Regions from separate parts of the Homo sapiens genome. Here region 1 is linked to region 2. The links come from fine-mapping of genetic effects on gene expression. Tissue or cell type: esophagus mucosa. Region 2 holds a variant in brackets; the other region holds the start of a gene. All regions are shown on one strand. Distances are between the middles of the regions. Region 1 holds the start of NEO1 (neogenin 1). Region 2 has its middle 54 kb from the start of NEO1.

Region 1 (2,904 bases), 54 kb after region 2:
GGTGCAGTATATAAAATGATCAATAGTCTCATCAGCAGTGGAACTACAAACTGCTTTCTCCTAACTTTGTGTAGCCTGGGTGCTGCCTCACGATTACTAAGTGGTTTAAAATCATATCCCACTTGCTCCTTGGTTTATCAGCGAAAGACGTGATTCCCAGGTAGGAAAACGCCAAGTGTCCCGCAAAGGTACAGGTAAAACGTAGCAGTTACTGCGAGAAGACTGGCCCCGGGGAGTCCCAGGGCTCGGTCGGGGCCCCCGCACGAGCTGAGGAAGTGGACAGCGGGCACCTTTGTCTGTGCCTAGTTCCCTGGACCCGGGCCGAGCGATGCGGGTGGGGGCGCGGTTCGGGCGGGTCCCGGCGCTGCCCGGGGGAAGCGCGCGGCGACGGCGGCCCGGCTTGGGAGCCGGAGGTCAGCGGCTGCGCGGCCGGCCCCCTCCCACGGGAGCCGCGCCAGGGCCCAGCAAGAGTCGGGCGGGATCGCTATTGTTTTTGGCGAGCACATAAATCCCCGGGCCGACCCACTGCGCACCCAGGTTTCCTCCCGGAGGCCTTTCGGTTTCCTCTGAGGCCCTATATAGAGGCTCCAGGCCCGGACTGTGCAGAGGTGCGCGCCCACGCCGGCCTCCCGGACCAGCCTGAGCTCGGAGCGCCTCTCGCCCTCAGGTCTCTGCAGCCAGAGGCATCTGGGGAGGTGAGGGGGGAATTTGTCCCCGAGGCGAGGAGGAGGAGGCGGGGGCGCGCGGAGCCGAGGGGCTGCGGCGAGCGGGCGGGAGGAGCAGGAGGATCCGCTTCTCCGGGGTTTCCCTGACGCCAGCAGCAGCGCCCGGCGCGCGCGCCCCGCACCCGTCAGCGGCTCCGGGGAGAAGGGGGAGGGGAGCGGGCCCGCCACGGCCCGAGAGGCGGCAGCCGGGATTGGAGCGGGGGCGGGCCGCGCGCGGAGCCGAGGGGGTGCGGGCGAGGCGCGCGCGTGCGCGTGTGCGCGCCCGGGACTCCCGCCCCCCGCCCCCGCCCCCGCCCCCGCCGTCCGCGGTCTCCGCCCCCCTCGCGCTGGTGTGTGGAGCCGGAGTCGGCGGCGGGTGGCGGCGCCTGGAACCTGGAGACCGACCCACCGCCCCCCCCCCCCCGCCCCGGAATGTACTGACTCCCCTTCTTCGCTCTCCTCCCCTCCCCGCCCCCTTGCAGGAGGGAGGCGCCCTGGAGTCTCCCCTCCAGCGAGAGGGGCTGCGCGGGCCGGGCCGGGCCGGGCTGGGCTGGAGCAGCGGCGGCCGCGGGAGCCGAGCTTGCAGCGAGGGACCGGCTGAGGCGCGCGGGAGGGAAGGAGGCAAGGGCTCCGCGGCGCTGTCGCCGCCGCTGCCGCTCACTCTCGGGGAAGAGATGGCGGCGGAGCGGGGAGCCCGGCGACTCCTCAGCACCCCCTCCTTCTGGCTCTACTGCCTGCTGCTGCTCGGGCGCCGGGCGCCGGGCGCCGCGGCCGCCAGGAGCGGCTCCGCGCCGCAGTCCCCAGGTAAGCGGCGGGCGCGGGCCCGGGGGTTCGCGGGGGCGCGGCACCGGCTCAGGCGGCCGCGGCTGCGGTGTTTTTGTTTAGGATCCAGGAGGAAACGTGCAGGAACTTCTCTGCCTCGGCTCCGGTTGCCGAAGAGAAAGGGGATCGCGCGTGGTGGGGAGGAGAAGGGCGAGAGGGGGCGCCACCGGGGAAGGGGCGGCTGCCGGGGGGCAGGTCGGGGGCGCAGGGGTCTAGTTCCCAGCTTTGTACCTGGAGGCAGGTTCACCCCTCGCCTCTCTCCCCTCCCCCAGGCTCATCCCACTTGTAAGAGTGGGACATTCTTGTGCTCACACTAGCACCAGTAGAGGCCACTACACACCTCATTAAATAAACAATCAGACGGCCAATTCATTAATTTTCAGGAAAGGAAAGGGGAGGGGGCTTGAGCTCCTGGTTCCCTGGCCAGGGATTTCCCAGCTTCCGAAGTCTCGAGGAAGAGCTGGCTAGTCTCGAGGGACTCCTCGCGCGGGGATTGGAGCCCGAGTCTGCGGAAGAGCGGGGGTGTCAGAGGGGCACAATTGCCCGCTCACAACCCCTGGTGTTGATTTAACGATGAGGACGCCTTGGAGAGCGGCTCGGAGTGATCGTATCTGTTAGTGTTTCCGTTATGAAATGCCTCTTCTTTCCTGGGGATTACAACTATATTTACAGCCTATTAACCACTCTTAACCAAGGGAATTGTCTAAGCATCAGATTTTAGGTACTTGTACAATGTTTTCAGATGGCATTGTATAAACATTGAACCTCAAAAGCCATTTTCAGTTCTTTTTTGGAATATTATAGATTACTGAAACCACCTGCATTCCTATTAAGGGGACCAACGAACAAAAATGCCAAGCCTTCCGGGAAGGACCTTACGGTATTGTTGAGCAGGATACACTCAGCAGTTGAAAGGCAAATTAGCATGTAATCTGTTAAAATTATTTGACCAAGGTGGTGTACCATAAAACTTGACAAAACTTTCACTCGTGTGAGATATGATATTTTTACATTTGAAAGCAGTCTTACCGCTGAACCAGTACTTGTTTTTCCCTGATTTATATGAAATAATATTTAAAATCACACTGCAAGGTAACTTGACTGATAAACTTTTCATTTCCTTGCAGAGTGTGTATGTAGCTCATGGCTTTTGCCAATGTTAAAGAACAGCTTTAAACGTAAAGTACCACTCGGTATTCTCTAAACAGCTACGTAAACAATAGTGTTTTAATGTCAAATTAAACATCACTTATGTCATGATGTACCCTTATACATTCAGTCCGTATATGGTTTAGAACACATTTTGGTGCTGAAATGCAGGTTACTGATCCAACTGTCTCTTAGATGAGCAAGAGAAATATAACTATTTTGGAAAACA
Region 2 (2,904 bases):
TCTCAAACAAAACAAAACAAACAAACAAACCAACAAACAAAAAAGTTGTCTGGAGCAGTTCTCAGGAGAAGAGATGATTGTCTGTCTTGGCGTGGTGTCCAGTCTCCTCTCCTGTGATTGGAGTTAATCTTCCCATGTTGATAAGATTCCCAGAGAGCAGATTCATGATAATTGAGTTTTTTTTTTGGAGTATCCGTCTTTAGGCAGATAAGGGGTCTCAGGGAAAACCTCTGCCTGCATTCGCTGTTCCCCAAGTGCTCTCTGTTCAAAGTAATCAGCACAGCAAAGTGGCATATTTTGGGGTAGCATTTCTGGAACTCCTTCCTTCAAGTGTAACTAACACTTCCAGGGGGAATGTTTGATAAGCCATGTCCCAAGGGAGGGGAGATGGAACCTGTTTGCCAAAACAACAGGGAATTACATAAGGGGAAGCCAGTGTTCACTCTCTAAAACCTTAATTTTTAGATTCTGGAAGGAGAGAGGGGAAGGTTACTTCCTGAGCTGTGAAGAGGTTCAGACCCTTCTCTAAAAAGGGTTCTGGGAGAGAAAGAGGCTCCCAGGCCTGTCTACACAGCCCAGTGGTGATGAAGAAAAATGTATTTTCCTTTGACACACCCCTTTGAGTGGTCTTATAAGGTTTGCTTTGTATTTGGTGAGGCAAATATTGGCAAAGAAGTTGATTTGGTTTTTGTTTTGTTTTTAAGATGAAAAGCAAAATCTTAAAAACCAGAGCTTTAAAAAGCCTGGAAGAAAATATGCCAAAATATTATAACACTTGATTTTGGATGGTAGACGGATGAGTGGGGTTTTTCCCTCTTCTTTTTACTTCAGGCTTTTCAAAAATTTTACAGTCATATCTTATCATTTTTATAATATAAAATGTAAGTTTATCTAACATTTAAAATTAAAGGTTTAGAATTTTAAAATAAAGATATGAGCATGTATTTAAACATGCTTGGGTCACCTACCTCAGCTGAGAGCTTTCTCCTGTCAGTTTCTAACACTAAACCTTAATGAAGAAGGTAGGAAATCAGTTGACTTACACTTCTCACTTTGACATTTTTAAATCTTAGGGGATATTTGTATGCAAACAGGAATGCGAGCTATGGTTGGCAGAATTTATTTCTACCTGCGGAACATTCCCACCTGAATCTCCAGTATTCCTCTGCAATTTTCAGAGCAGAGAGAATCAAAGCCATTAAAAAGCTGACTGTGACATCAGGCTGAAGAGAGGCACAGATGTCCTCCCCAGAAACACTACTTGCTCTTACCCAGGCAACAGAGGCTTGAGGACTAACCTTGTAAATTACCTGGCATGTGTAAGTAACAATGTTTGCAAGAAAGTCTTTCAACCTTTTTTTTTTTCCCCAAGACAGTACTGGTGGCTCTTTCAAGTTCCAATTATAAATTTCCAAATCCCAGACACTTGGGTGCCAGGCTGAAACAGGGACTGCTCGTGCTAAGACTTGTAGTAAATTGCAACAGTGTGGGAAGTGGGC[G/A]GTTTGTTTCCCAGAGTTCAAGCAGGGACTGTAACTGCCAGTGCCATCTCTTTGAGATGCTTCGTGCCCGGGGCTCCTAGCTCTTCCAGGTTGGGAAATAGCTCTCATACCCGGAAGAGGCTGGCCAGAGGAGTGACCAGCAGGAGACAGAACTCAGGCCTGAGGGCTCTAGGTTCACCAATATAAAAGTAACTGCTTAATGTGGCTTCCAGCTATGAGAAGAATATAAATGAACACCGCGTTCTTCCAAAGGCCTCTAATCTGAGACACCCAGGGATGATACATATGTATGTGTTAAATTTATCTACAAAGAGTCAGGACTTGTGGATGTCCCTTTACGGCTTACAAGCCGAAATGTGTGCAGCAATGGAAGTTAACTTCACAGATATTGTCTTGTTTCAGACAAAAGGTCACTGGGCTGTCACTGAGAGACTCGGTGAGGAAAAAAAGATGGTGCAAAACGCCTCAGGATGGCAGCATCTTGACTTGGGTAAACACCAGTGTACCGCGTGTCTTCTGCATGCCTATACACGTATGTCTATACCTCAGTCAGATGAAGAGCACCACAAAACTGGTATTTAAGTGATTAAGTGTATTTGAAATTTTATTGATTCTAGAAGAGGCAGCATATGAAAAGAGACTGGGCAAGCAGAAAGGAGTCTGTAGGCTGCAAATGAGAGAAGGATGTACTGTCTCTGTGGGTGACTGGGAAGTGCTGGGCGTGGAGAGAAATATTTGAATTAGCCACCACCCAAATACGATAAGCCAGATGAAATACGGCTGCTGGCTCGCCTGAATGTGGCAATTCCAAAGGTGTGGAGGCAAATCTCACTGTACAAACTGCCCCCTCACAGGTTGGCAGCAAGACCCATAATTCAGAAAAAAGGAGATGACGTCAGAAAGACCCTCGCCTCCAAAATACAGCCTCTCAGGTCAGAGGGAAGGCACAACCTTCTTCCTAACACATCAGAGGGTTTCCTGAAGCAGTCAGCGAGAGACACGTCGGCACTCGGGAAAATGCAGATGCCTGGACTTCTAATACCTGGGATTCCAGGCAGGAAAGGACAGCTTGGATTTTGATATAGACGGTACCACTTGAACTGGGAATGAACCGGTCCTAGAGCAGGTTTCTTAGGAGAAAAGGCTCTAAAAACAAACAAAAACCCTGAGAGAAGATGGTCATCCTTTCAAGAGGCATCTACAAGAGTTGTAACACTAACTAGATGTGAGGCCTGGGCAAGGGCACAGAGAGATCATGACTAGCAGGAAAAATGCAAGATAATGTGGGACACAGGAAGCTCTGGAGGTCCAAGAGCAGTTCCGGGAATGCTTCAAGTCTTCTCCTGTTGGTGGAAGCTGGGGCTGGGGACACCAGGAGAACAAAGAGCTATTTGGAAAAGGGTGA

What was found. PIP is the estimated chance that this variant, and not a neighbour inherited with it, causes the effect.
Region 1: it holds the start of NEO1, and the variant in region 2 is fine-mapped to the expression of NEO1 in esophagus mucosa (GTEx, PIP 0.97).

What each region holds. Positions count from the first base shown.
Region 1 is chr15:73,051,298-73,054,201 of GRCh38, forward strand. NEO1 (neogenin 1) reads left to right here and starts at 1,166. Exons shown (of 29, transcript NM_002499.4): 1 at 1,166-1,508. The coding sequence starts at 1,379. RefSeq lists silencers at 286-335, 396-465, 556-875, 1,106-1,485.
Region 2 is chr15:72,996,861-72,999,764 of GRCh38, forward strand. No RefSeq gene overlaps it. Among named protein-coding and RNA genes, the nearest start is that of NEO1, 54 kb to the right of the region's middle. The variant G/A (reference allele first, on the strand shown) is at 1,500.